Homo sapiens: one gene and its partners. The protein of the gene in region 1 purifies or fractionates together with the protein of each later gene. This does not show direct contact. Each region holds a gene or a part of one and is shown in the gene's direction. Other genes may lie near its edges. The genes, in order: COLGALT1, PLOD2, COL21A1, PYGL and PRRC2C.

Region 1 (4,573 bases):
TGGGCCACCGTGCCTGGCCGTGTCACGTCTGTTTTTATCACCATCATATGTAATGGCCAAACCTTTGGGTCACTTCCAAGAAGCAGGAGGAAGGGGTCAGGGGCTGGGGGGTGGTGGCCACATTGAATTGCTGAGGCCTGACTTGCACTTCCTCCTCCTGTGGGGACATTGTCTCATGGGGAAGGGAACAGTTGAGTCTTTTTATTTTTTTCTCGAGCCAAGATCACGCCACTGCACTCCAACCTGGGCCACAGTATGAGACTCTGTCTCAAAAAAAAAAAAAAAAAAAAAAAAACAGACTTATAGGTTGAATATTACTATTATTTTTTAATTTGTATAAACTTATGGAGCACAAGTGTAATTCTGTTACATGCATAGATTGTGAAGTGGTGAAGTCAGAGATTTTGGGGCGTCCATCCCCTAAATAATATACATTGAACCCATTACACAGTTTTCTATGATCAACCCCAAATGTTATTTCAGCCTTCATACTTTTCTATATTCTCCTGATTTTCTTTTTTCTTGTTTTTTGAGACAGAGTCTCTGTTGCCCAGGTTGGAGTGCAGTGGCACAATCTCGGCTCACTGCAGCCTCCTCCTCCTGGGTTCAAGCAATTCTTCTGCCTCAGCCTCCTGGGTAGCTGGGATTACAGGCCCCCGCCATCATGCCTGGCTAATTTTTGTAATTTTAGTAGAGACGGGGTTTCGCCATGTTGGCCAGGCTGGTCTCTAAAGTCCTGACCTCAGGTGATCCAGCTGCCTCGGCCTCCCAAAGTGCTGGGATTATAGGTGTGAGCCACCACATCCAGCCCATCTCTTAAAACAAACAAACAAAAAGCAGAAAAGAAAAAGCAAAGAGTCAAGTGAGCAAAGTGATTACGATGCAGTGGTGGCTAGAGGTCCAACTACACAGGCCAGTGGAGGCACTTGGTGTCTACTTGGAGGGGAATGGGGAGCCATGGAGGGTGTGTGAGCAGGGGAGGTCTGTGTTCTGATTTGAGATTTTCAGAAGCCTCTGTGGACCAGGCGCGGTGGCTCATGCCTCTAAATTCAGTACTTTGAGTGGCTGAGGCAAGTGGATTGTTTGACTTCAGGAGTTTGAGACCAGCCTGGTCAACATGGTGAAACCCTGTTTCTACCAAAATATAAACATTAGCTTGGCATGGTGATGCGCGCCTGTAACCCCAGCTACTTGGGAGGCTGAGGCAGGAGAATGTCTTGAACCCGGGAGGCAGAGGTTGCAGTGAGCTGAGATTGCACCACTGCGCTCCAGCCTGGGCGACAGAGTGAGACTATGTCTCAAAAAAAAAAAGCCACACACTAGCAGGAAGCTGGAGTAGAGGCCCAAGCAGGGTATCAGCGATTGATGGACAGGCCTGCATGGGGTGGGGGCCGTGGAGAAAGGCAGGGGGTTCAGGATGCGTCACGAGGTGAAGGAGACAGGTTCTGCTTTGACACTGGATGTGAAGGTGCCAGGGAGAGAGGAACGGGGACAGTGCCACATCTAGGGAGGACGGATGGAGCTCCTGAGGGGACCCTTTCGCTTGGTGCCTTATCAGACCATTTTATAGGTGAGGAAACAGGCTGACGGAGGGGACATCTTGCCTGGTGGGGTGTCAGAACTGGCAAGGAGGCAGAGAGGTGGATCTGGAGCCTTCCAGAGCCTTCTGACACAAAGCTGCCTTGTCCTGCCTCTAGGATTTTGCTTTTGTGGTTTGAGGTTGCCTGGCTTTAGCTTTTTTTTCCCTCAGCAAACCGGGGTGGAACTCAAAGTGCTGGTTCAAAACTCAAAGTGGCTTTTGACACAAAATAATATTTTCGTGTTTCTTTTTTTTTTTTTTTTTTTTTGAGACAGTGTCTCACTCTGTCGCCCAGGCTGGAGTGCAGTGGCGCGATCTTGGCTCACTGCAGCCTCCACCTCCTGGGGTCAAGTGACTCTCCTGCTTCGGCCTCCCAAGTAGCTGGGACTACAGATGCTTGCCACCATGCCCGGCTATTTTTTTTTTTGTGACGGAGTCTCACTCTGTCGCCCAGGCTGGAGTGCAGTGGTGCGATCTCAGCTCACTGCAAGCTCTGCCTCCCAGGTTCATGCCATTTTCCTGCCTCAGCCTCCTGAATAGCTGGGACTACAGGCGCCCGCCACAACACCCGGCTAATTTTTTGTATTTTTAGTAGAGACAGGGTTTCACCGTGTTGGCCAGCATGGTCTCGATCTCCTGACCTCGTGATCCACCCGGCTTGGCCTCCCAAAGTGCTGGGATTACAGGCGTGAGCCAGCGCGCCTGGCCCGACTAATTTTTTTTGTATTTTTGTAGAGACAGGGTTTCACTATGCTGACCAGGCTGATCTCGAACTCCTGACTTCAGGTGATCCACCCACCTCGTCCTCCCAAAGTACTACTGGGATTACCGGTGTGAGCCACTGCGCCTGGTCACAAAATTATATTTTTGTAACTGGGGACTTTGGAACCCATATTGGAATGTGAAATAGTTTGTCTAATGTTTTAAAATGATTGTTTGAAGGTCCCCCTTTCTCTCTCTTTTTACAAAAGCTATGGATGTTACTTGCAGGTAAAAAAAATAAATAAAAATATACGAGCTGGGTGTGTCTCACGCCTGTAATCCCAGTGCTTCAGGAGGCCAATGTGGGAGGATCATTTGAGGTCAGGAGTTCAAAACCAGCCTGGGCAACATAGTGAGACCCCCCCCATCTCTACAAAAACTAACAAAAAAAAAAAATTAGCCAGGTGTACTGGTTTGTGTCTGTAGTCCCAGCTAATTGGGAGGCTGAGGTGGGAGGATTGCTTGAGCCCAGGAGTAGGAGGCTGCAATCAGCCATGATTGTGTCACTGTACTCCAGCTTGGGTGACAGAGCGAGACCCTTTCTTAAGCTTCGTATATGTGTATGTGTGTGTGTATGTGTGTGCGTGTGTGTATACATATATACATATATACGTGTATATGTATATATATCTATATATGTATATAAACATATATACGTGTGTGTGTGTATAATATAGATATACATATGAAACAAGAAAGAAAAACATCTACTTTTTTTTTTTTTTTTTTTTTGAGATGGAGTCTCATTTTGTCACCCAGGCTAGAGTGCAGTGGCGCCATCTCGGCTCACTGCAACCTCTGCCTTCTGGGTTCAAGCAATTTTCCTGCCTCAGCCTCCGGAGTACCTGGGATTACAGGTGCCCGCCACCATGCCTGGCTAAGTTTTTGTATTTTTAGTGGAGATGGGGTTTCGCCATGTTGGCCAGGCTGGTCTTGAACTCCTGACCTCAAGTGATCACCTGCCTCAGCCTCCCAAAGTGCTAGGATTGCAGGCGTGAGCCACCGCCCCTGGCCAGCATCTAAATTTTAATTGTATCTCCTGGAGAGATTCACTTTCTCCTCTTTCTTGTTTGTTTTAATTGAAGTCAGTTCACATATATATTTATTTGTTTTGCAACCACCACCTCTAATTCTAGAACATTTTCATTCCCCAGAAAGAAAACCCTATTCCCATCAGCAGTCACTCCCCAACTCCCCATTCCTCTCCCCTAGGCTCTGGCAGCCACTAATCTGCTTCCTGTCTACGGATTTGTCAATGGAATGTCACACTATATGGCGTTTCGTGTCTGGTTTCTCTCACTCAGCATTGAGTTTTCAGGGTTCATTACAGCCTGGATCAGTGCTTCCTTCCTTTGTATGGCTGACTCTTATTCCGTTGTCTGGGTGGACCACGTTATGTTGATCTCCTCATCCGTTGATGGACACACTTCAGTCACTTCCACCTTTTTTGGCTGTTGAGACTTTTTTTTTGAGACAGAGTGTTGCTCTGTCGCGCAGGTTTGCAGTGCAGTGGCACGATCTCGGCTCACTGCAACCTCCATCTCCTGGGTTCAAGCGATTCTCCTGCGTTAGTCTCCCGAGTAGCTGAAATTACAGGCATGTGTCACCATGCCCGGCTAATTATTTTTATTTATTTTTATTTTTAGTAGAGACGGGGTTTCACCGTGTTGCCCAGGCTGGTCTTGGACTCTTGACCTCATGTGATCTGCCTGCCTTGGCATCCCAAAGTGCTAGGATTACAGGTGTGAGCCACTGCACCCGGCCTGGCTGTTGGGATTCTGACATGAACATGAGCGTACAAAGACCTGTTTGAATTATCTGGGCATGGTGGTGCGCGCCTGTATTTAATCCCAGCTACTCAGGAGGCTGAGGCAGGAGAATCATCTGAACCTAGGAGGTGGAGGTTGCAGTGAGCCGAGATCACACCACTGCACTTCAGCCTGGGTGACTGAGCAAGACTCTGTCTCAAAAACAAACAAACAAACAAAGAAGCTGTTTGAGTCCTTTCTTTCAATTCTCTTGGTTCATACCTAGGAATGGAATTCCTGGATCATGTAGTAATTCTATGTTTAGCTTTTTGAGGAACTGCCACAGTGATCTGGCTGTTTGTTCTGCATTAATATTCAAAGGTCACAGATTCAAACATCCAGAGGGACCGGATGGGGTGTGTAACATGACCACAGGGCTTGTCCTAAGACCCAGCCACCTCCCCTCTGCAACTGAAGGTTGCCA
Region 2 (4,573 bases), on another chromosome or scaffold:
TTACACTACTAAAGATGGTGCAGCAGTACAGAATTGATTACTGCCCGACTGTGTCACAAAGATACCTCTTCAAAAAATAGTTTATAATTTAAAAATGTAGTATCTTCAAATAAGTTTTTGTTTTCAGAGTAACTTTACAAGCAATTCAAAGAGCAAAGATACATCGTTTTTATACACAAAAGGAAGATTTTCATTACAGATTTTCTTTTGTGTATTAAAAGAGGGAAGTGTACTTTTGTTAATTTTAATTTGGTTTTCTTCAAAACAATACAATCAGGTTTATGCATTTACATACTTAGTTACTGATTGACTCATGCATTTTTTTCAGGCCTTGATTGTTTTAGTAGCACATTGTGGCAGATTTAGGAAAATAAAAATCATTTTAAAATTTCTATTAAAATATGGATATACTCCCCCTTTCTTGAATTTATTTCTTAAAGGAGATGTGATTAAGTGAGAAAATGCTTAATTTGTTAGTGTGGAAATATGCTTCATGTTTACAATTTCTTTTCCGCTATAAGAAATTAGGTTTAAAGTTTAGTTTGTATAGGTTTGTAATTAAATTTTAACCAGGAAAAAATCTATAAATAGCAACTGGATAACCTTTGCTCTTCATTTCAAGAGCAATTAACACTAACTTTTTTTTTTTTTTGCTGTTCTTTTTTATTATTAGTCTTCTCACAAGGGAGTATCAGTTTCTGTGCAAGTTCATGAGTGATGGGGATACTCCCCAGGCATTATCAATACAGAAGTGACAAGGTATACTACATTGGAGTGTCCTTTCCTTTTTTGGTTGAAGAACTACTGTATTTATAATAAAAATCTACACCAGAAGTTTAAAGAAAAAACCGTATTTCAAGTTTGAATACAATAAAGAACATGATTATTACTGTAAATATACTCAATAGACTTTTAATACAAATAAAAGTCTTGGTGAACATATGGCTAAAATGAGGGGCTACTTGAGGCAGGAAAGTGGTCAGGAAAAGTGTTTCATATAAACATTGGTGAATTTTCAAAAATGGGCCAGAGTTGAAATTAAATATCATTTGTTACACTGATAGTTTATTGATTTTAATATTGCTTTTATTATCTTGTGTGCATAAGACATCCTGGTGCATTAACTAATCATCTGCTCATTTAATTTGGGGTTATATTCTCAAATTTTTACAAAGAACTTTCTCATTTGCTTTCTAGTTACTGCTAACCTATTTTAGGGTTCCTTCCAAACGGTAGGTGAGAGATAGGACTTTCCTCTGATTTAAATGCTGTTTTTCTTATCTTTTTTTTTTTTTTTGTGCTGTGGACAGGTAAAAATTCTTTATGGAACAAAGGAATTTTCAAGTACACATAATTTTTATTGTTCTTGACAGTACTCCTGGTCAGTCTCGGACACTCAAGTGCAGTAAGGAGATACTGAATATGCATCATGCTCCACAGCTTGACCCTCCCACAGGCACAGCAACAAGCGAAATAGATATGTGGATTTTGGCAACCTTGGCTTTGTGATGCTAGGGCATCGATCTGGCCTGGGAGAAGAAAAGCTCCAGAAGCTATACTTTATTCCAGAGCCCCAGCACACAGTGTCTCATAGGCAAGGCTGCTCTGTCATTGACTATTCTGTTTTAAATGGTTTGAAGCCACAACTTTTGTGGGCTTTCAGGTGCGAAATACTTAACAGATGCTGCACACAGGGCTAAGAAGGGGGCCAGTAACATTTAGGTCTTTTAAAATGCATTCTCTAACAGGTTCTTTAAACATTTAAATCTTTCCTTCCTGTTTCTAGCAATGTACTAAACACCAACAGCTATCTCATCTTTAAAAATTCTGCAAATACAGAATTTAAATTATTTCTTTTTGAAAAAAGGAACCAGCTAACAGTTTGCTGGTAGACTAAAATGATCTCCATAATGTGATCACCTGGGGAAGTCTTAGAGCGCTGTTGTTATGAAGAGGGCGGATGGGTTCTTTGATGGGATTTTCCGGTCTTGTCCAAGCCAGCTCTGAGGCACCTTGTCTTCAGAGGCCTCTTCTCCTGCTCTGGCTATGCTGGTTCTTTCCTGGCCTCCAGCTGGCACCACAGTGGTGACCAGAATGCCCTGCTGGTCCAGGGCCTCTGGAATTCCTGCCGGCCACGTCTAGAGAAGGACAATCCTCCTTTTCTTCTTAGTTTAGTTTAGACAAGGTTGGAATTTTTTAAACAGTGACTTTACTAAGTAACCAAGGGCAAAACAAAACAAAACCTCACACTGGAAAATCACCGAAGCAAAGAAATGAACAGACTTACAAAGCAGAGATTCAGAGTTCTTACTCTTCTCTGACTTTGGTATAGTTCTGTATTGAAATTCTAAGATTCTTGCAGGGAAAATAATGTATATATAAAACTGAGCAAATCAAAGAAGCACTTATGGGTAAGCAACCTGGATACCTGCACACCCAGCACATTTTGAGGGTTCATGAATTCTGTGTCCTTGTCCAGCGTTTCTTTCTCCCCTCTTCACTCTCATTCCTCACTTCTTCCTACCACTTTCTTTTACACAGATGACTCTTCTCCATGATTGGAGTCCATGAGATCCATGGGTAGACAAGTGGTAATAGATGGTCTAGGTATATTTGTCATTTCTTAGGGACATATTACATTACATATTAGCATAACTGTAGCCATTGGACACTTAATTTTCTTCACTAGATAGAATTTTTTTTTTTTGAGACGGAGTCTTGCTCTGTCGTCCAGACTGGAGTGGAGTGGTGCAATCTCGGCTCACTGCAACCTCTGCCTCCCGGGTTCAAGCGATGCTCCTGCCTCAGCCTCCTGAGTAGCTGGCATTACAGGTGCGTGCCACCACGGCCAGGTAATTTTTGTATATTTAGTAGAAACGGGGGTTTCACCATATTGGTCAGGCTGGTCTTAAACTCCTGACCTCAGATGATCCACCTGCCTCAGCCTCCCAAAGTGCTGGGATTACAGGCATGAGCCACTGCACCTGGCCAATAGGTAGAAAATTTTTATGCTGTTGCCCATGACTATTTTTGTATTGCTTTAATTCTTGATTTTAGTAGCAGTTTGTGTATGCTTTTATAAACCTATATAATTTAGTAAATCTACATTAGTTTATTTAGCTAAGCTTTACAAATTCCCTCATAATACAACTTTTTTAGAGGTAACTAACAGCATTGTAAATTTTTAGATGCAAATGTATGCCAACAATAATTCCCATTGTGTAATACTGTGAAATTTTGGTAATTAATATTTTAAAAAATAATTGGAGTATTTATTGACTGGCTAGTCTGTGTTCTGTTGCTTTGTGTGAAGGAAAAACAGAAAAAACAAACCAGAATGAACAAACAAAAACCACACAAGGCTCAGTTCCTGTTCTGTATTGAAATTCTAAGATTCTTACAGGGAAAATAATGTATGTATAAAACGGAGCAAATCTGAGAAGCACTTACGGGTAAGCAACCTGGGCTGCAGGGAAGAACACACACATCTGGCATCAGGAAACCTACATCTAAGTTCTCATCCTTCCACTCACCAACCTTGAGCCGATTCTTGAGCCTCGTCAGATTTTACTTGTAATTTGTGATCCTTACAGTGCTGTGATTTGATGTCTCTTGACTTTTTTTTTTTTGAAACGGAGTTTCGTTCTTCTTGTCCAGGCTGGAGTGCAATGGCGCGATCTTGGCTCACTGCAACCTCCGCCTCTCGGGTTCAAGCGATTCTTCTGCCTCAGCCTCCTCAGTTGCTGGGATTACAGGCATGCGCTACTATGCCCTGCTAATTTTGTATTTTTAGAAGAGACCGGGTTTCTCTATTTTTGTCAGGCTGGTCTTGAACTCCCAACCTCAGGTGATCCGCCCACCTCAGCCTCTTGAAGTGCTGGGATTACAGGCGTGAGCCACCGTGCTTGGCCAATGTCTCTTGACTTTTAAGTGTCAGAATGGTGGTAGAGACAGAGTGCTGCAGGAATCAGAAAAGAGGTCTCAAGAAAACTTACTATTATTTGTTAGGCCAAAGAAGGCATAGATATAAGGTTGTTTTGTGTTTTAAATTCTACTTTTTCTACTGGTTGTTGTATCAAGATCTGGACTTGGCCAGGACTTGGTGTTGCTTTTTTCTCTTAATTAGCTTTTGATTTAGATGCAGGACAGTAGGCCAAGAATAACTAGAATTAAATTTACATTTAAAAAGGTTCCAAGTGTTTTTATATGAGAAGAGAAAACAAGTCTGGTGTTTTTATGAAGCTATTTTCTGTTTTCAGAGAGGAACCGTATCCTCTTCAGTACATTTAAATATTGTATGCTGTTAAAAAAATAAACTTATATTCATCTGTTTCAGTCCTGACCTTTAAGTCAAATAAATTAATAACAATTATGCTGGTAACTTTTTTTTTTAACTTTTATTTAGGGTTCAGGGGTACATGTGACGGTTTGTTACACAGGTGAACTCATGTAATGGGAGTTTGTTGTACAGACTATTTCATCACCCAGGTATTAAGCCCAGTACTCAGTAGTTATCTTCTTTGCTCCTCTGTCTCCTCTCACTGTCACCCTTAAGTTGAGCCCAGTATCTGTT
Region 3 (4,573 bases), on another chromosome or scaffold:
ATGATCATGTTATCTTTTCCTTCATTCTGTCAATGACACATTTATTGATTTTATATGTCAAACTCTTTCATCCTGTGGATAATTCCCATTTGGTCATGGTGTATGATGTTTTCGATGTGCTGTTAAATTCAGTTTGTTAGTGTTTTATTGGGGATATTTACATCTATATTCATCAGGGATATTGGCTTGTAGTTTTATTTTATTATGGTATCTTTTTCTGGCTTTGGTATCAGGTTAATGCTGGCCTTATAAAAATAGTTTAGAAGTGTTTACTCCTCTTCAATTTTTTGAAAGATCTTAAGAAAGATATTAATTCTTCTTTAAATGTCTGGTAGAATTCACCACTGAAGCCACCTGGTACTAGGCTTTTATTGTTGGGGTGTTTTGATTACTGATTTAATTTCCTTTAATCTCTAGTTATAGGTATGTTCATATATTCTATTTATTCATGTTTCAGTTTTGGTAGGTTATATGTTCTAGGAATTTATTCATTTCTTCTAGGTTACCAATTTGTTGATATATAGTCGTTCATAGTGGTCACTTAAAATCCTTTTTATTTCTGTGGCATCAATTGTAATATCTCTTCTTTCACTTCCTGTTTTGAGTCTTCTCTGTTTTTACTTAATTTAGTTAAAGGTTTGTCAATTTTGTTGATTTTTCCAAAAAAGCAACTCTTAGCTTTGTTGACTTCTTTCCATTTTCTATTTTATTTATTACTGCTTAAATCTAAATTATTTTTTTCCTCCTGCTAACTTCGGGCTTAGTTTGTCTTTTTTTTCTGTAGGTCCTTGAGGTATAAAGTTGTTTATTTGATTATTTGATATCCTTTTTCTTTTTTAATGTAGGCATTTATTGCTATAAACTTCTCTCTTAGTACTGTTTTCCTGCATCTCATAAATTTTGGATGTTGTGATTTTGTCATCACGTATTTTCTAACTTTGTCTCTGATTTCTTCTTTGACCTGATGGCTATTCAAAAGTGTGCTATTTAATTTTTACATATTTGTGAATTTTTCAATTTTCCTCCTGTTGTTAATTTTTAGTTTTATTCCATTGTGGTTGGAAAATATACTGGTATGATTTCAGCCTTCTTAAATAAGACATGTTTTGTGATTTAACATGTGGTCTGTCCTGGAGAATGTTTCATGTGCAATTGAAGGGAATGTGTATTCTGCTGCTGTTTGGTGGAATATTCTGTATGCATCTGCTAGGTTCATTTGGTCTATAGTATTGTTCAAGTCTTCTATTTCCTTATTGATCTTCTGTTTGAATGTTCTAATCATTATTGAAATCCTCTACTATTATTGTGTTTCTTTCTATTTCTCCCTTCAGTTCTGTATATGTCTGCCTCGTATTTTTGTTATCATGATGTTGGCTGCATATATAATCATAATTATTATATCTTCCTGGTGAGTTGACCCTTTTATCATAGTAGGATATCTTTCTTTGTCTCTTGTTATAGTTTTGTACTGTGTGATATAAGTATAGACATCTCTGATGTCTTTTGGCTACCATTTGCATGGAATATCTTTTTTCATTTTTTCACTTACAGCCTATGTGTGTCCTTAAATTTAAAGTGAGTCCTTTTCATTTCTCTTTTCTTTTCCTTTCCCTTTTCCCTTTTCCCCCCTTCCCTTCCCTTTCTTTCCCTTCCTTCCCCTTCCCCTTCTCCTTTCCCTTTCCTTTGTCTCATTCTGTTGCGCAGGCTGGAGTGCAGTGGCATGATCATAGCTCACTGCAGCTTCAACCTCCCAGACTCAGTCAATCCTCCCACCTCAGCCTCCTGAGTAGCTGAGACTACAGGCACATGCCACCATGCATGGCTAATTTTGTTGTTTTTTGTTTGTTTGCTTTTGTTTTTGTTTTTGTAGAGATGGGGTTTTGCCATGTTGCCCAGGCTAGAGTCTTTCATAGATAGTATATAGCTGGATCTGTAGCTCTAAACCATTCAGTCTCTCTATGTACTTTGATTAAGGAGTATACTCACTTACATTTAAGGTAATTACTGATAGGGAAAAATTATTGTTGCCATTTTGGTAATTATTTTCTGTCTTTCCTGTAGCTTTTTGTCCCTCTTTTTTTCTTTTACTGTCTTCCTTTGTGTTTTATTGCTTTTTTTGTAGTGATGTCCTTTATCATTTTATTTATCTTCCGTAGGTATTTTCTTTGAGGTTATCATAGGGGTTACATGAAACATCATGTAATTATAACAACTTATTTTAAGTTGGTATGAAATTAAATTACATATAAATATTCTATATTTTTGCTACCTGTCCTTTGTTACTGATGCCACAAATTGCATCTTTTTATATTTTATATCTGTTAACATATTTTTAAAGTTACAGTTTTTAAAAATGCTTTTGTCTTTTAACTTTTACACCAGAATTAAAAGTCATTTATGCACACTGTTACAGTATTATAATATTGTGTGTCTGTCTATATATTTACTTTTATCTGAAAAATTTATACTATCTTATGCTTTTATGTTGCTGATTAGTATACTTCTGTTTGATCTTGAAGGACTCCTTGAGAATTTCTTATAAGGCAGGTCTGATGGTGATGAACTTTCTCAGCTTGTGTTTATCTAGAAAAGTCTTTATTTCTCCTTCATTTTTGAAGAACAGTTCTGCCAGACATAGCATTCTTGTTTGGCAGGTTTTTTCTTTCCTTTCAGCACTTTGAATATGTCATCCCACTCCTGGCCTGCAATGGTGCTATTGAGAAATCTGCTGATAGTCTTATCAAGGTTCCCTTGTACATAACAAGTCTCTTTTTTCTTGCTGCTTTCAAAATGTGATCTTTGCCTTTAACTTTTGACGATTAGATTACAATGTGTCTCAGTGTGGATTTCTTTGGGTTTAACTTAGCATATATTAGGCTTCTTGAATTCGAGTATCCATATCCTTTCCCAGATTTGGGAAGTTGTTGGCCTCATCTCTTTAAATAAGCTTTTTGTCCCCTTTTCACCCTCTTCTTTTTTTTTTTTCTGGAACTCGCAAAATGCATATATTGGTATGCTTGATGGTGTTGCTTAAATCTCTTAGGCTTTCTTCACTCTTTCTCTTCCTTTTTCTTTTTGTTTCTCTAACTGGATAATTTCAAATGACCAATTATTGAGTTTGCTGATTCTTTTCCCTCTGCTTGTTAAAGTCTGCTATTAATCATCTTTAGTAAATTTTTTCAGTCATTGTATACTTCAGCTAAAGTATATCATACTTATTACCTATATAGCTGACTATGTAATGCTAATGATTATTCTTAAGAAAATATTCTTTATAAGTATGATTAATATATAATTATAGATGAGATAATATGTCCGTCTGAAGAACTTTCATGAATAGATGGGACCCAGGTTAAGTTTTTTCCAGAGAGACAGACTAATGATATTTGAGCTATAGAAATATAAGCTGCTTGAACTGGAAAGAAAATCAAGAACAGAAAATACTTTTTACCCCTTAAATGCTAAGAATGCAAGAAAAGAATTTTAGTGTTCATTTTTGAATTAAATAAATTAAAAGCATTATCCAAAGTTGTATGACTAGTTAATAGGAAATCCTGGATGAGAATGATAAATCCTGTTCCATTGTTTTTCTTTTCCATAGGTGTTATATTGTCTCATATTGCTATTGTCTCAATTTTTTGCTAAAGACAATACATTAACAAATATTTATATTTTTGTTTTACTTTTATCCCTTATTTTTTAGAGAAAAAAGCATATTAAGATCTCACTCTTAAATGTGTAAAATACTTCTACATTTTCTCAGAAAATGTATTCATATACATTTATATACTATACATTTGTATACATATGTAGATTTTATAATTCTAATGATAGAATACTATATTGTCTAGTATTTCTCCCTTGATTTTTCTTTTATTGTTTGAATAGTCCATGATTAACCAACTTTTATTGCTTTTGCTTTATAGAATCTGTCTGTCCAACACGAATTCCAGTGGCAGCTCGTGATGAAAGGGGATTTGATATTCTTTTAGGTTTAGATGTAAATAAAAAGGTTAAGAAAAGAATACAGCTTTCACCAAAAAAGATAAAAGGATATGAAGTAACATCAAAAGTTGATTTATCAGAACTCACAAGGTATGCATTATATGTTGACACAACTTTTTTGGGGGGATATGTCTGTGGACATGTCAAGAATTCTTTAAGCTTACACTTGCTCTTCTTTTTCTAGCAATGTTTTCCCAGAAGGTCTTCCTCCATCATATGTATTTGTGTCTACTCAAAGATTTAAAGTCAAGAAAATTTGGGATTTATGGAGAATATTAACTATTGATGGAAGGCCACAAATAGCAGTTACCTTAAATGGTGTGGACAAAATCTTATTATTTACAACAACCAGCGTAATTAATGGCTCACAAGTGGTTACCTTTGCTAACCCTCAAGTTAAGGTAAAGATGCCTGGGATAATACCATGATTATGATATTCATGGGGAAGCACTATTGGGTTTATGTGTGTTGGGGAAAAGAGGGCTATAATTTTAACATGATTGGAAATATTTTTACTTTAAATTTTAATGTTTCTGTGTTGAAGAAAACTAACAAAGAAAGGAAAATT
Region 4 (4,573 bases), on another chromosome or scaffold:
TATAAATAACTAACAGAACCTGGGTTCCTGGTCACTCTTATAAGTAGATTTCCTGTTTTTAACACTTTAATACCAGTGAAGCTGGCCGGGTGTGATGGCTCATGCATGTAATCCAGTGCTTTGAGAAGCCTAGGCAGGAGACTCACTTGAGGCCAGGAGTTTGAAACTAGCCTGGGCAACATGAGACCCACCCCCACCACCACCACCCGTCTCTACAAAAATAAAAAGATTAGCCAGGTGTTGTGGCATGCACCTGTAATCCTAGCTACTCAGAGGCTGAGGCAAGAGGATTGCTTGAGCCCAGGAGGTCAAGGCTGCAGTGAGCTATGATCACGACATTGCTTTACAGCCTGGGTGACAGGGTGAGATCCTGTCGCCAAAAAAATTAAATAAAAATAAAAATAATTTTTAGGCCGGGTGCAGTGGCTCACACGTGTAATCCCAGCACTTTGGGAGGCCGAGGAGGGCAGATCACAAGGTCAGGAGATCGAGACCATTCTGGCTAACACAGTGAAACCCCGTCTCTACTAAAAATACAAAAAAAAATTAGCCAGGCGTGGTGGCAGGCGCCTGTAGCCCCAGCTACTGGGGAGGCTGAGGCAGGAGAATGGCATGAACCCAGGAGGCGGAGCTTGCAGTGAGCCGAGATCGTGCCACTGTACTCCAGCCTGGGCGACAGAGCGAGACTCCATCTCAAAAAAAATGAATAAATAAATAAAAATAAATAAATAAAAATAATTTTTAAAAACTGCTGAAACTACATTTAAGATACTAGCAAAAGTGTTCTTCTCACATAGACTTTATAGACTCTTCTTTGAGTCAAACTATCCCATGTTCTGTGTGATACGTGAACTACACTGTGGTAGGTGACAGAGAGAAATACTGACAGAAACTGCCCATTTGGACTTGATTACCATCCCCAAATTGAAGTCATCTTTTCCTTTGAATTGAAAGAAAATTGGAGAAGACTATGTGAAAGACCTGAGCCAGCTGACGAAGCTCCACAGCTTCCTGGGTGATGATGTCTTCCTCCGGGAACTCGCCAAGGTGAAGCAGGTGAGCCTTCCAGGTGTGGGTCCCCTCCTGGGCACTCACTGTGAGAGTTTATCCTGTAGTTTTTGTTTATTTTTTGAGACAGAGTCTCGCTCTGTTGCCCAGGCTGGAGTGCAGTGGCACGATCTCGGCTCACTGCAACCTCCGCCTCCCAGGTTCAAGCGATTATCCCGCCTCAGCCTCCCAAGCAGCTGGGATGACAGGCGCCCGCCACCACGCCCGGCTAATTTTTGTATTTTTAGTAGAGACAGGGTTACACTATGTTGGCTAGGCTGGTCTCGAACTCCTGACCTCAAGTGATCCACCCGCCTCGGCCTCTCAAAGTGCTGAGATTACAGCCATGAGCCACCACACCCGGCCTATCCTGTAGTTTTTAAAAACAGACCACCCAGCCGGGCGCGGTGGCTCATCCCTGTAATCCTAGCACTTGGGCAGCCAAGGAGGGTGAATCACCTGAGGTCAGGCATTCAAGACCACTCTGGCCAACATGATGAAACCCCGTCTCTACTAAAAATACAAAAATTAGCCAGGCAGTAGTGGTGTATACCTGTAATCCCTGATAGGATAATCGCTTGAATGTGGGAGGTGGAGGCTGCGGTGATCTGAGATCATGCCACTGCACTCCAGCCTGGGCAAAAGAGTGAGACTCCGTCTCAAAAAAAAGAAAAACCAGACCACCCAATTCTTCTAGGCCAAAAGAGCTCTGGCACCATGCACTGTCTTAACAGGAGAATAAGCTGAAGTTTTCTCAGTTCCTGGAGACGGAGTACAAAGTGAAGATCAACCCATCCTCCATGTTTGATGTCCAGGTGAAGAGGATACATGAGTACAAGCGACAGCTCTTGAACTGTCTGCATGTGATCACGATGTACAACCGTGAGTCAGCCCTGTAGCCAACAAGCCCCCTTGCAGGTGGAAGCAGCAGACTCAGCATAGGTCTCACTGCCCTGACCGTCAGCTGTCTTCCATTTCATCCACTTCTCCATCTTTTTCAGGCATTAAGAAAGACCCTAAGAAGTTATTCGTGCCAAGGACAGTTATCATTGGTGGTAAAGTAAGTTGAATCTATTCAATGGGGACTTGAGGGCTCTAATCTCTTGCCATTCTTCTACTTCATCATGGCTGCCTTCTGTCAATGCGTTTGACCTTCTTCCCCAAAGGCTGCCCCAGGATATCACATGGCCAAAATGATCATAAAGCTGATCACTTCAGTGGCAGATGTGGTGAACAATGACCCTATGGTTGGAAGCAAGTTGAAAGTCATCTTCTTGGAGAACTACAGAGTATCTCTTGCTGAAAAAGGTACTACCCTCATTGCAAAATATGCAGGGGCCAGGGCAAACTCTAGAGATTACATGGTATGAAAGATGGGGCAGCCAACCTCCAGGAGCTAGTAACTTAGGATAGAAGGTGTCACTCTTGTGCAGAATAAGGGCCTACGGTAAGAGGTTTTAAAGTGACCCAAGTCACAATGAAATTGATGTCCTGGAGTCAGTATCACAGGATTATACTTGCAAGTACATTTTCTTCCAAGCCAGTGAGAGCTATGTGCTGGGGGAGGCAGCCCTGGGGTTTCAGCATCATTCAGAACCCGCTCTATAAAACAGAGGAAAGGTCTTCAGTTCCCAGCCCCAGTTTTGCAAGAGAACACCAAATCCCCAGTCTTCAGATATTTCTTTGGTCACCCTGTGAGAAGAAGGGCTGTCACTTGCTCTTGTATCAATAATAAATGAGGGCAGATGTGAGGCTGCCAAAGCACGAGGCTTAGATGTGCCTCACATGGGCACTTCAGCATCAAGCATGATGCTCCCACATGGGGACAGCCAGATGGGCAAGAAGCCAGTGTCCCTTTCTCTTCCACTGGGACCTTTGGTTATTTGGGTCACAAGCTCACAGAGCACCATCCACATGCAAATGCCCAACTGTGTATTCACCCACTTCCCAAACTGAAAAGGTAGAAAGGGAGCTTTTTCTTTTTGTGGTGTTTTTAGGTCCTCTGATGTTACTGTTTAAGAACTCTCTGCATAAAGGGAGAAGAGCCAGGTTCCTAGGGATGCAAAAGAAGATACATCTAATCCACAAATAAGCTCTCACAGTAAAGCAGAAAAGTGGTCCTGACCTTTGTAGTCAAAGGAAGTGCTTCAGGCAGCTCTAATTTGCGTGCAAATCAGCCTGAAAGGTCAGAGGCTAGATGTCTAGCCCCAGGCACACCTCAATTACGTGTGGCTTATTTCCCTGCAGGAAAAGTGGAAGGAAGGAGGTGAGAAGTAGAAGGAATGCAGACAATCCAGTCTCCTCAGGTTGCCAAAGAGGAGTCCTGGAGGGACACTCTGAATGTTATGGATCAAGAGAGAGAAGTTCAGCCTGGGCAGCATAGGGAGACCCCATACATACAAAAATTTTAAAAAATTAGCTGGACATGGTGGTGCTCGCTTGTAATTGCAGCTACTTGGGAGGCTGGGGCAGGAAGATTGCTTGAGCCTAGGAGGTCAAGGCTGCAGAGAGCTGTAATCGCACCACTGCACTCCAGCCTGGGTGACAGAGAGAGACCCTGTACCAAAAAAGAGAAAGAAAAAAAGAGAAATTTCAATATATTTTATAAAGTAGAAGAAATAAAAATAAAACTGTAACAAAAATTGGAAGGAATAAAAGGAAGAAGAGAAATGTAGTATCAATGTTTGTCGCAGTCAATAGATACTCTTCAAAGTTTATAGCTCGAGAAAGAAATACAAGCATATAAAATGGACAAAAGTGGTTGCCTGAGTCAAGGGGAAAGAGTGTGATCTGCCTTCTAGACCATTTGAATGTTTATCTTAATGTGCATGTATTACTTTAATTATCAAAACAGCCCAACTTAATAAATGCTTCAATACAATACAAGCAGATCTAGACAGACAAAATTACTAATTTTAACTTACCTTTCTTGCAGTCATTCCAGCCACAGATCTGTCAGAGCAGATTTCCACTGCAGGCACCGAAGCCTCGGGGACAGGCAATATGAAGTTCATGCTAAATGGGGCCCTAACTATCGGGACCATGGATGGGGCCAATGTGGAAATGGCAGAAGAAGCTGGGGAAGAGAACCTGTTCATCTTTGGCATGAGGATAGATGATGTGGCTGCTTTGGACAAGAAAGGGTAAGAGAATAGCTTCTCTTTGCTAGGCAGGACTGCCCCTCCCCCCTAGAAGGTATGTGACCTCAGAGGGCTTCCTGCCCACACCGATATCCCACTGAAATTGGATCACATAAGAGGTGGCAGCAGAACATCTCCCACGATGAGGCAGGAGAGCCTCCTGGCCACAGATTAATATTATTAAACCCAGCAAATAAAAGTACAGACACATGGAGGAGTTGCTATTTGTTATCGGCCATTGCAGAGCTGGCCTCAAAGAGCTATTTTTCCTCCGTATGTATGATTTTTACTTTGATCAAAAGATGAACCAGTTTCTAGTTGGAAGGGTTGCCTATAATTTAAATCATGATCTAGTGCTCCTTTAAGATATCAAAGAAATGCACTAA
Region 5 (4,573 bases), on another chromosome or scaffold:
TTTCAGGTTTGCTGTTTAATCAGTTTAAACATGCAAGCTTCCATGGTGTAGTTGATATGCTATTAAACTGTAATTTCCTGGAGTAATTATACTTTAAAATAAAATTCTTTTTCTAGATCTAATCAACTTTTTTGTTCTTCTCCGAGTTGGCTTGTAGACTGATTAATGGCATTCAAATATAGTATAAAGCCTTGGCAAAGTTAAAGTTCAGGGTTTTCGTTTTTTGTTTGTTGTTGTTGTGGTGGTGGTGGTTGTTGTTGTTTTTGAGACAGAGTCTCTCTCTGTCTCCAGGCTGGAGTGCAGTGGCGGAATCTCAGCTCACTGCAAACTCCACCTCCCAGGTTCAAGTGATTCTCCTGCCCCAGCCTCCCAAGTAGCTGGGGCTACAGGCGCGTGCCACCGCACCCAGCTAATTTTTGTATTTTTAGTAGAGACGGGGTTTCACTATGTTGGCTAGCATAGCCTCAATCTCTTGACCTCGTGATCTGCCTGCCTCGGCCTCCCAAAGTACTGGGATTGTAGACGTGAGCCACCGCGCCCAGCCTAAAGTTTAGTTTTAATGAACGACTTGAATTAAAATAGAAATGCAGTTTTATTTCAGTGTATTTTCTGATGTGGAAATATTGTAAGTTTTCTAACCTGACGTCTCATGCTCTTTTCTACAAGGCACTGCTGCTTAAAATAATAAGAATGTGTTTTTAAAAATAAAGTTTTTATTTATATGCAGGGTTACCTTCAAACTTGGCTCTTAATTTAACTATAAAGGAGTATGAGTATTTTATCTTTAATTTTTTTAATGAAATAAGGCCTGTATGGACCATTTGTTAAGACTCTAAGATTTCAGATTTTTTTCATATTAATCAATCTAGAGAGACTTTGCTATTGAATAGTGGGCTTATATTACATAAGTACTTATGAAGATTGCTCATAACACCAAAATAGTGAAATAAAGTGTTCACAAGAGAAAGGAAAACATTATCATAGTTTAATAAGTTTTATTTGTGCTTTTATTTTCATTCACATTTTATATATTCTCTCTCATGGCAATTTAATTTTAGCTTGTTTATCAGTGAGATGTACCCATGTGATTTTTTTTTCCCCCCTCAATTCTGATACTAGACACATACAATTTTTTTGTTTGTTTTAATGCTCTCTGAGATGTTCTCAAGACACACGTGATTTTAAAGTCAGTGCCTATGTGGCTCTTTTTCCTCCAGTATATTATTTTCCATTCTTTTTTTTTTGGCTGTGTTGCCCAGGCTGGTCTCAAACTCCCAGGCTAAAGTGATCCTCTCACCTCAGCCTCCTGAGTTACTGTTATTACAGTCATGCACCACCATGACCTGCTCACTCTTTTACAACATTCTTAATATTGAATGTAATCCAAGCAATAAAAATGTTATTTGTGATTCTTAACAGCATGCTTTTACATTGGGAGATAAACTTCCATTTTAAATTCATTACTAGTCATTTGAGAAAAGAATTTGTAACAAGCGTGGATTTGTAATTGTGACAAATGACATTCTAGAATGAATTATGTTTGAAGATAACTAGTGATCACTCTGTTGTCTTCAGACTTAAACTCATTAGTTTTCCTTACAGATAATAGTCCCTTTACCCAATAAATAACTAAATAAACCAACATGCTCTCTTTTTAAGTATTTATAGGCCATTTGTGTTTTCATGTAGATTTTAATGAACTACCAGTAAATACTGACAATTACATTGATGTTTATTGAAACAAATAAAAAATATGTGGAGTTGGAAATGTTTCATTATTTAAAAAAAAAAAACATAGATTTTATATGATGAAGCATTTGGATCTCTGCTCTCCATCTCTAAGAATGCAGCTTTTAGGAAATCTAAGGTTTTGATAATCTAATGTTACCTCATTGATAACTACCAATGTTAAAGTAGAAAATAATGTTTTAGAGTGTCGAGGATATTTTCTTCCTCATTAACTTTTATTATACCTCAGTCTTTGTAAAAATCCTGTGTTTGATAAGTGTCATAGATGAATACTATTACCTTTCACCTTTTCTTTGAGCAGAGGAGGAACCCGTTTTCACTAGACAAGACAGCAATCGCAGTGAAAAGGAAGCCACACCAGTGGTGCATGAAACAGAACCAGAATCAGGGTCTCAACCTCGGCCGGCTGTATTATCTGGCTATTTCAAACAGTTTCAGAAGTCTTTACCTCCACGATTCCAGCGGCAGCAGGTAATGATAAAAATATTTTATCATGTATGTGTGATTGAAGTGGTTTATTATGCAGTAGTCTGGGAAATTAGACATAAAACTGATAATACGTAAAGCACACAAAGTTCCCTTGAAATTATTTTTCCTTGTAAATAAAAGTTAACGTGGGTTTTACCTTGACCTTCTGTGTCATTCCTTTTGATCTTCTGCCTCATTTATAGACACCATCTTCCATTTCTAGGAGATAGATCATACAGTGCTTGAGTATAAGGTAAAATGTTATAGTTCATCTTTCAGTTTTTTGTCTTGCCAACTCTTAACTGTTAAATACCTTTTGAACTCTTACTTTTCCTTCAAGGATTCAAAACAGGCCATTATTTTGTGATATGATTGATTATGTTAATTTGTCATGTGGAACTAAACTCTCAAGATATGGGATCTTACTTTTTCAGGAACAGATGAAACAGCAGCAGTGGCAGCAGCAGCAACAGCAAGGTGTACTTCCACAGACTGTTCCTTCACAACCGTCCAGTAGTACTGTCCCTCCTCCACCACACAGACCTCTTTATCAGCCTATGCAGCCTCATCCTCAGCATTTGGCTTCTATGGGTTTTGATCCAAGGTGGCTCATGATGCAGTCCTACATGGATCCTCGAATGATGTCAGGAAGACCTGCTATGGATATTCCACCCATTCATCCTGGTCAGTTGAATTTGCATTTATAGTTTTACAGGATCAAAATTTTTTTTTCCCTGCTTTTAGTTTCAGTTCCTTTGAGAGTTGTAATCTAGGAAAAACTTAAACCTCCGATTTTTAATCAAAATGATGTAACTTTCAGCATCGAGTAATTAAATATCTGACACTCATATTACTTATGTGGCAAGAACAAAATACTAGTTCATTTCTGTTTTGTAAGTATTATTTAAAACTTCAGATGGAAATAATTATGTGTTATTAACAGTATTTGTTATTGGCTACATTGTTGTTCTTCTTTAAAGTGTTTTCAGCGTTTGAATTTTGTCCATATGTTATATATATTCCTTTTCAAGTTCTTCTTCCATCATTTACCAACCTAACACTTGAATTTCCTTTTAGGTTAGGGGGAAAAAAAGTGAATTAGCAGTCTTTTATGGAATCCATCAGAATAAATCAAGATAATCTATTACCAAAATGTTACAGAGGAAAATTTAGGGATGATAAGCTGATCACAAATCATGTTTTGATTTTTACATTTATACTGGTATTTGGAAATTTAAGTGGCATATTTTGTAGAATATTGACCAACTAAGGTAGGTTAATGGAATTTAGGAAAGAATTTTCTCTGAAAGTTATCATAGTATAATTTTCATGATGTTTGTATTGACATCCAGAGTCACAGTACTTGGTGTCTGATTTTTATATGCATAATATTTTCTTTCTTTTGAAGTAAAACAGGCTGCTATTGTGATTTTGCTTATTTTGCTTCCTCAGTTCTTAAATGCAATTTTTATTTAACAGCAGTAATAAAATTCCATTCACAGAACAACCCTTACATAATTTCCACCAATCTTTTACTCAGGAAAAAAATGCTTTTAATATGGAGAATTCCACCTAACAATTAATAACCTGTATTCTATGTCTATCATGGTTTTGTTTCGTTCATTTTTCAAAATCCTCATTTCACCTTTTTCTGAACTTTTGTTACAGGAATGATTCCTCCTAAACCATTAATGAGAAGAGACCAGATGGAAGGGTCACCGAACAGTTCTGAGTCATTTGAGCATATAGCTCGATCTGCAAGAGATCACGCAATTTCCCTTTCTGAGCCTCGTATGCTGTGGGGGTCAGATCCCTATCCTCATGCTGAGCCTCAACAAGCAACTACTCCCAAAGCAACAGAAGAGCCTGAGGATGTAAGGTAATAAATTATTTCAATTTAATAGATGATACAGAATATTTTGGTAAAAGGAAAACTGTGTAGTGTTTCTGAAGATCATTCCAATTTAGGACTGAAGCATAAATCTGGTTTCCTTCTATTTAATTTAGCATGCTACGCTTACTCTTTGGACATATTCTCTGTATTCATTAGGGCATTTTGTAACCTGGTTCTGTACTCAATTGTATGCTGTAATTTAGTATTAGATGTTGAAATTGGTAGGTTCTTTTTTGAGATAGGAACTTGCTCTGTTATTCAGGCTGGAGTGCGTTGGTATGATCTTGGCTCACTGCAGCGTTCACCTCCCAGGCTCAAGTGATCGGCTTACCTCAGCTTCCTGAGTGGCTGAGACTACATGCGTTCACCACCACACCCCGCTAATCTTTGTGGGGTTTTTTGTTTTGTTTTTGTTTTTGTTTTTGTTTTTGAGACAGAGTCTTGCTCTGTCTCCCAGGCTGG

What was found.
Region 2: the proteins of COLGALT1 (region 1) and PLOD2 fractionate together in Homo sapiens (co-fractionation; one large-scale study listed by BioGRID). This does not show direct contact.
Region 3: the proteins of COLGALT1 (region 1) and COL21A1 purify together in Homo sapiens (co-immunoprecipitation; one large-scale study listed by IntAct). This does not show direct contact.
Region 4: the proteins of COLGALT1 (region 1) and PYGL fractionate together in Homo sapiens (co-fractionation; one large-scale study listed by BioGRID). This does not show direct contact.
Region 5: the proteins of COLGALT1 (region 1) and PRRC2C fractionate together in Homo sapiens (co-fractionation; one large-scale study listed by BioGRID). This does not show direct contact.

The regions. Positions count from the first base shown.
Region 1 is NC_000019.10:17,561,362-17,565,934, forward strand, and holds part of COLGALT1 (procollagen galactosyltransferase 1 precursor), read left to right. Parts: intron 1-4,573. UniProt on the Homo sapiens protein: Beta-galactosyltransferase that transfers beta-galactose to hydroxylysine residues of type I collagen. By acting on collagen glycosylation, facilitates the formation of collagen triple helix. Also involved in the biosynthesis of collagen type IV.
Region 2 is NC_000003.12:146,150,554-146,155,126, reverse strand, and holds part of PLOD2 (procollagen-lysine,2-oxoglutarate 5-dioxygenase 2 isoform 1 precursor), read left to right. Parts: intron 1-4,573. UniProt on the Homo sapiens protein: Forms hydroxylysine residues in -Xaa-Lys-Gly- sequences in collagens. These hydroxylysines serve as sites of attachment for carbohydrate units and are essential for the stability of the intermolecular collagen cross-links.
Region 3 is NC_000006.12:56,170,482-56,175,054, reverse strand, and holds part of COL21A1 (collagen alpha-1(XXI) chain isoform a precursor), read left to right. Parts: intron 1-3,926; coding exon 3,927-4,095; intron 4,096-4,189; coding exon 4,190-4,406; intron 4,407-4,573.
Region 4 is NC_000014.9:50,909,512-50,914,084, reverse strand, and holds part of PYGL (glycogen phosphorylase, liver form), read left to right. Parts: intron 1-954; coding exon 955-1,056; intron 1,057-1,781; coding exon 1,782-1,929; intron 1,930-2,048; coding exon 2,049-2,107; intron 2,108-2,213; coding exon 2,214-2,355; intron 2,356-3,982; coding exon 3,983-4,190; intron 4,191-4,573. UniProt on the Homo sapiens protein: Allosteric enzyme that catalyzes the rate-limiting step in glycogen catabolism, the phosphorolytic cleavage of glycogen to produce glucose-1-phosphate, and plays a central role in maintaining cellular and organismal glucose homeostasis.
Region 5 is NC_000001.11:171,533,378-171,537,950, forward strand, and holds part of PRRC2C (protein PRRC2C), read left to right. Parts: intron 1-2,050; coding exon 2,051-2,220; intron 2,221-2,651; coding exon 2,652-2,901; intron 2,902-3,885; coding exon 3,886-4,096; intron 4,097-4,573. UniProt on the Homo sapiens protein: Required for efficient formation of stress granules.